2 linked regions of the Homo sapiens genome follow. The protein of the gene in region 2 purifies or fractionates together with the protein of the main gene of each other region. This does not show direct contact. Each region holds a gene or a part of one and is shown on either strand. Other genes may lie near its edges.

Region 1 (3,830 bases), on a different chromosome or scaffold from region 2:
GGCATGAGCCACCACACCCAGCCTACTGTTACTTTTTGATGTCTAATTTTGCAGTTTGAATTTTTGATCTTATGTGAAGATAAGGACTGGCTTGATTCAGAATCTGATTAAGATAAAATTGAGGCAAAAATATATATATATACGTAGGAAGGCAAGTAGTAAACTGAATGAATAAGTAACTTATCTCAGTCAACCGTCTGACATAAAACCAGGTATTCTGGTGGTAGGATCTTGGCACTTTTGATGAGTTTTCCTCTTAGTATAACCGATTAAAGCTGCAATGACAAAAGCATGCCACCCATAGTGTGCAAACATGTTCTCTTCTGTCCCTGCACATACACCACAAAATAAATGGATGAGGTTGCATGTTATTAGACATATAAATGTTACTTTTCCAGTCTTTTATATCTTGCTTCAATTTGCTCCATGATCTGTTCATCCAGTAAATCTGTTTTGTTGGAAACTTCAGGAAGAAAGAAAGTAATAAAGACAGAGCCCCCTGATAAATCATGGACTTATTTTAGGTAGTGCAATAAGCTATTACCCCCTCCCCACCCTACCCTCCATCATTTATGTCGATCCCTCCTGATCGTAATTGCTCTTAAATTGGAGGTCTTGTTGCTTTAGACTACTTGGCAGGTACTTAGGCTGTACCATTGCAATAATTCTCTATCTGGACTCTTTTCATACAATTATTTCTGCTTCCGAGCCAGCCTATACATTGTACATTCTGGCCCGGGTAGTATTCCTGATGCACAAGTCTGTTTTACTCTCCTGCTAAATTTTCAGAATGAAGTCAAACTCTCTGTCTTGCTATCCAAGGCTGTCTGGTAGTTAATACTAAACAACTTTTCTAGTAGTTTGCAGAATCAAACAAGGGCTACTGGTTATGTAAGAAATATAACCAATGCTTTCATGCCTTCATGCCCTTGCTCAGGGTCTTTCCCATTGCCTAGGATGCTGATCTGTTAGTTTTTCCTTTTAAATCAAACTCAAATATTCTGTTCCATAAATTCTGTTCCCTCCTTCCCTCCTTCTATATTTACAGAAGAAGGAGGGAAGAGAATCTTCTGTATTACTCTGCAGTTGTATAACATTTAATATGTTTTTTGCCCTTGAGTACAGGAACCATCTTGTTCACTGGGTCTCTCGCTTTGCTGAGAGAACAGTTCTTAACTCCTAGTAGATGTTTATTTAATGTTTGTTTCATTTTAACAGTTCATAAGTTTATACAGGGGCACCTTGGGAGCCTAGGAGAGGACTGAGTATCAGTCAACGTGCCAGTACTCATTCCCTTAGTTTTATGTGGTTGAGTTAGATTAAAACAAGACATGAAGGGCAGCCTTGATGAAGAAAACAGTCTCATATGAACAGTTTACATAAGAATACACTGTGCAGAGGGGGATTGGGAACATTGCTTTGGTGATTGATGGAGTTTATTGTCTGTGAGACCTTTTTTTTAGCACTAACCTTATGCCAATTTTTAAATCGTTCTCCAGAAAGTGAAATATTTAGAGTAATAATTTAGAGTCTTAGATTAAGGTTTCTTAAAAATATGGTGCCCATTACTTAAATGTGAATTTGTCTTTCAGATTATGTGGCTTCTGTGATTTTAAATTTACTGTTTTTTTTTTTTTGATTAAGAATTATTTGGTGTTTTTTTTCTTGTAATTGGGTATTTCATAATAACTTCTCTTAATTTTAGGAAAGTGAAAAAACTCTTATGATGAACACATTATATAAGCTTCATGATCGATTGGCACAGCTTGCAGGTAATTGTTTTAACTTTTATAGTTGCTAAAAATGTTTTGAAAAATGTATGTAGCATGTTATTAGTAGAAAATATTTTTCCAAGTCCAGTGTTATATTTGTGAAATATTTTTCTTTAGAAGTTTTCATTACCTATACAGAGTGATTTTTGATTTTTACATATGTATTTAATGAAGGCTTTTTTCCTGCCTGCCATCTGTATTAGAGGTAATATATATATATAATATAGTTATAAAGTTGATCAAATTTCTTTATTGCATCAGTGGTAACAAAAAATCTGGAAAGCTTAAGTATCAGAGGAATTAGGTAAGCAGTGAATTAACTAAAATCTTGGATTAAATATACAAATGCAGATTTTCTTTTGTTGGTTGTATAGGTATCATTCTGTTTGATAAAGTAAATTTATTCTCCTGTAATTTTCTCTCCGGATTAATTGCATTTTCCTCATAGTCTGCTCTTAGTAATTCTTTGAGAGCTCTAAGGTAGTCAACTTGTCCGAAATGGGAATAATTTATTATAGATTAATTAGTATCAAGTTTAGCACATGTAAACTGCAGTAGCAGCTTATCTATTACCTTTTTTTAGTTCTTTTTTTTTTTTAAACATATAATCTGAAAGAAGAGACTTGGATTCTTGTAAGCAGGCATAAGAAAAGAAAAATGCAGTTTTCAAACTTTTCTATGTAGCAGAACTTTTGTGTAAACCAGATTATTGGTAGCAGCCTATAGGTAAATATGGAACTTCTCTGGTTGAATGGAGGTATTTAGGATCCTGACAGTTTCCCATCCTCTGATCTCTCTTTGTTTTGTACATTGGGTTCTTAATTCTGGTCAATTTTTTAAGCTTTTAATTCTGTATTATATCGCTAAAAGCCTTCTTTGCTTTGATTGTCATTCACACACTTCAAGCTAATGACATTTATTTGGTATGCTGTAGCACCCAGAGATAGGTTAAGTATATGCTAGTTATGCTAGCTAGGGATATTGCTAACACAAGCTTCTACAGCTATCTCTGTAGCATTGTTTTATCAAGTATGGTTCATGGCCAGCTAAATCAGCATAATCTGATGTGCTTTTAAAGATACAGATTCCTTCCCCTTGAGTAAGGGTCAACAAGCTTTTTTTCTGTGAAGGGTCAGATAGTGGATATTTTAGGCTTTGTAGGTTAGTTTGCCTCTGTCACAACCACTCAGTTATGTTATACCATGAAAGCAGCCATAAATACTACATAAGTGAATGAGCTTGGCTGTATTCCAGTAAAACTTCATTTATAAAAACCAGAGTAGGCCAGATTTGACCCATGGGCTGTAATTTGCAGACCTCTGCTCTAAATCTATGGGATCTAAATCTCTGAGGATGCACTAATAAACTTTCAAGACTTGTTCATCTGATAGGTACTTCTCCCCTTTTTATAGCTACTGACATTAAAATGATTACTTGAACAAAACTGAAATGAGAACATGGCTGCTTTTATTTTAGAAACATTTGGCAAGGATTTTACTTTAATTATTCTACTTTCATGTTAACAAGCTTTTTAACTACTTGAAAGACACAGGGAAGGGAAAACATGACAATTGGAGTTCAATATGAGGATAATTTATTTCTAATAACCACTTATAGTCTAAAGAAAAAGCCCTGAATTCGCTTCTTATCAACAATTAAAAGAAAAGATAAATGTAGTTTTCCAAAGATTTATATGAGCACATCCCTTTGTAGAAACCAGATCATAGGTGGAAACTTGTACCTGATTTCCCTGTTGGTCTGTTATAACAATTTTTGTTTTTTAAGATTTTTTTGAGACAGGATCTTTTCTGTCACTCAGGCTGGAGTGAAGTAGGGTGATCACAGCTCACTGCAGCTTCAAATTTATGGAGTCAAGCTGTCTTCTCGCCTCTGCTTCCCGAATAATTGGGACAACAGATGCATACTACCACACCTGGTTATGTTATAACAGTTTTTAAGGCATGCACACCCCTTGCTAAAGATAGGATTAGTTATACTCTGAAAATGCACATACTTTAATTCATTAATAAATTCAAACTTATTTGAACCCTTAAATGA
Region 2 (3,830 bases):
GAGCAAAGCAAAGGAGGAAAGAACCACCCGCAACCCAAACAAACTTAGCGAATACAAAATGAAAAGCAACATCAATTTCACTGCAGACAAACCCAGTCACACAGATTAAGCAAGCACAATACTGGTGCGTCTTATCTCTGACCACAGGAGGAGGGTAGACAGATTCTACAGGATGAAGAAATTCAGACTATGTAATAGGCAGAATCAATTGTTACCTGCCTCAATCAATGCCGCTCCACTTTCACTGTTCAGCAGCTCACAAATAATTAAAGTTATCCTGGACAAAAACCTCATCTGTAATGACTAGCTAACCGCCACCATGACAAACTTCAAAGTCAGTGATATCAATCTGAATTCAATAGTGTGGAACTGGATATAGCTGATGAATAAGTATGAATCTTACCCTGATGGTCCATGCACGCACTTCATCTGGGCCTGCAGTGAAAAAGTATTCTAGTTGGAGTGCTGCAAACCCAGCCTTAATGATCTTTGGCAAAGCACTGAAATCAAATGAAACAAATTCACCCAACACATAAGTTGATTGTGCCAGAAATTGGTATAGAGCTAAAATTATTCATTTCAAGCAGAAAATGTTAAAGATAGTAGTAAATGACCATTCATCTTTCAGAATACACTGGAAGGGTTCAGAAAGCAAGTAACTGTTTTTAAAAACCTCTCTTCTAAAATTGGTTTTAATTGTATTAGCCTGAAGATATTATTTTGAATTGTTTGCTATTTAAAAAAAGAAAAATTATGACTATTTTCATCCAAAATTAATTATTTCCAGGACCTGGCCATAAAAGCAAAATTATTTGATTGAAATCTGATATTTAAACAATATATTACTGTTACTCAGAAAAAATTATGGCAACTGATTCACCCTTTCCCCTCCCCCACTGAACATGACGAAAGAGTTTTGGCGATCATTCCTTCTCAAAAATATACATAACTAATACCTATGTTATAATTAAAACACTGTACGGAGATGACAGATGACAGTTAAAAACTTAATTTAAAATAAATCTTTTCACTCTGTCTCATGGTAAAGAAAGGAGAAGATTCCCTCTTTATAATGGTAATTACTCTGTCATTTATTATTCTATCAGCGCAAGCAATTAAATTACTGCAAGGAAATAGTTGATAATAAAGTGTAGGGAAAATGAATGCTAATTAACCTTTGTGTCATGTTCGCTTCCAGATACTTCTGTCTCTCCTCAGCACTCAATTCTTGCAACTTGAGTTCCAAGGCCCCACTAAAAGGAATGACCAAAGCACCTGGGTCATACTTGTCCACCCACTCTTTAATTTTTATCAACCTGTAGACAAAAAAGGGCACAACATTATCTTGTAGTGCATGCATGACTGTACCACATTCATTATTATCAAGTAGCACATACATATTCATAAGAATTGCACGGTTTTATGATGCCATCTTTTTGTATATAGCTTTCCAAGGTCAAGGCATTAACAGGCAGCAACTGCTTCAGGTATACGCCATAGTATTTTACTGTAACCTAGTTTTACTTTAGCACATTATCTATGGAAACTATTATACAAATATTTAAAAACTTTTTTTAGTTACACTAAAATTGTTCAGCATTAACACCTGTACCCTTGAATAAAGCTTCCATTTTATAATTTTTTGTTTTCCTTACTTTACAAAGTAAATTTTTAAAAGAAGACATAAAGTTCTGTTTGTACAGGAATCATACCTAAAAATACCAGCTAATTCTGAAGAGCCCTTCACAAATAAATAATTTGTTCCAGCCAGATATCTATATGCCTGGTTTAGTTCCTTCATGGACTAACAGAACTCACAGTGGTCACTAGTTTTGAGGAAGCTTTTTCCTAGCCAGAACAAGCACGTGCAGAAATACAGATTTACAAATATGGTTGATCACGTACGCAGCTGTATGAACCTGACTTTTGTGAGAACAAGAATAATAGAACTGCAGAGGAAAGAAATTCCTTTAATCACAAAGGATTTGGAAAGCCAAATCAGTTAGGAAACTGATCCTAGTTGTTACCTGAAAAGACATTATTGAGTCATTTTTTTTCCTTCCAAAGCATGGAGTATTTGGCAAAGTAGTAATTAGAACATAAATGAAATAAGTGTAGTGAATATATTAATTAGGTTCAGAGCCTAACACTTTCCTAGCTTTTTATTACTGGGCAGGTTACTGAACGTTTCTAAGCCTCAGTTTCCTCACTTGTAAAAATAGAGATAATAATAGTACATATTATATTGTAAGGAACCTAGAAAAGCCTGCAAATAGTAAAGAATTAACAGCAGTTACTATTATTAATTTTCCTTCTCAGATAATCATAGCATACATTCCTATGAATCTGGAACTGAGTTTAGTGTGAGACTATACATTCCATTAAAATTTTTATAAAATTATGCTATAGGCTTACATAATTCCACTAGACTGCTATATTTAGACAAAGGTTTTAATAGTTATTATGGCAAAATGCTGTGGCAGAAGTCCTTTAAATAATTAATGTAAATGCCACTTTAGGGGAAAAGAAAAACAAGAACTAAGTCACAAATCCATCAATGGCAGGGGAGCAGAGTTATTAGAAAATTAAGACTATGGCCCATTGAGCAGGATTTAGGATGGGAGAAAGGAATGAAAAACAATCACACAAGAGTTTGTATATGTTTGTTATACAAAGGTAACTACTTATTTAGTATGTTATTTGTGGTTTTCAATCTTCATAATAGTATTTTTTCTTTTGTTCATATCCCAAAAAATGGACCAAGTCCTATGATTTATGTTGCCTTTAACATAAAATTCAAACTAGATGTTTTCTTAACCAAAATTAAGAAGGACAGGTTAAAAAAAAGGTGGGGGGACTGAAATTGGTGCTTCTGTCTCCGTTAACATTATGGTATTCTAAGTTACTTCACAGACTTACACTATTCAAACAAAAGTCTATATTCAAATGTTATCATCAATGGTTTAGTAACTTACTTTCATTATACAAGTTAAAATCAAATATGTAATTTTAAAAAAGCAGATCACATACCAAATAGATTCAATGAAAGTGAAATAAAACAAGCCCATGTAAAAGGAGAATATAAAAATATCATACACACTTTATTTCATAAATATGGTCAACAGAACTAATAAAACTAGAACTGTTATGAAACAACAAGATAAGAAATAATTACTTTAGCTAACACATCAATTCAGAATAACAATAGTCCTACCCTGTCATTTTAACAGCCTTTCCTGCAGAGTTCTCAGAGGGATTATTTGCATTCCTCAGGTGTTCTATTGTACAATTCAAATGAATAAAGACTTACAAATCATTCCTCTACCGCCAATGTGAGACTTTGATCTGGTGAATACACTATTGTACCTTAACTATAATTGGCAAAAAACCTGACAGTGTAGAGCATCACAAGCTTAATAACAAAGGAGAATATCTCAAAGTGTTGACAGATGATCTTCATAATGCAGAAGCAGAGCTGGTACATTTTAGCAGTAAATGAGCACTGAGGTCTAAAGGTCTCTAAAGTGACTGACATCAGACCTGCTATAGCCTCACTAAAAGAAAAAGGTACCGTAGCACTCTCCCGTAAAGTGAGTTAGGCTCTTTGCCTGCCAGCTTCACTTTTGTGACTTTCACTGTCATAGAAAACACAGGGAAGATGAAAAGTGAGTGAGGTTCTTTGGCTGTCTGCTTTACTTTTGTGACTTTTACTATCAAACAAAAGTGGGAAATGTCCCAAAATGATTTTTAATTACATCTATGAAATAAACCTAGGGTAATTAAAAATATTATTTGATTTCAAGATTATAGACTGAAATATATGTGGTGTA

The links.
Region 1: the proteins of OLA1 (region 2) and LEMD3 fractionate together in Homo sapiens (co-fractionation; one large-scale study listed by BioGRID). This does not show direct contact.

Annotation. Positions count from the first base shown.
Region 1 is NC_000012.12:65,214,272-65,218,101, forward strand, and holds part of LEMD3 (inner nuclear membrane protein Man1), read left to right. Parts: intron 1-1,705; coding exon 1,706-1,772; intron 1,773-3,830.
Region 2 is NC_000002.12:174,080,749-174,084,578, forward strand, and holds part of OLA1 (obg-like ATPase 1), read right to left. Parts: intron 1,317-3,830; coding exon 1,176-1,316; intron 501-1,175; coding exon 404-500; intron 1-403. UniProt on the Homo sapiens protein: Hydrolyzes ATP, and can also hydrolyze GTP with lower efficiency. Has lower affinity for GTP.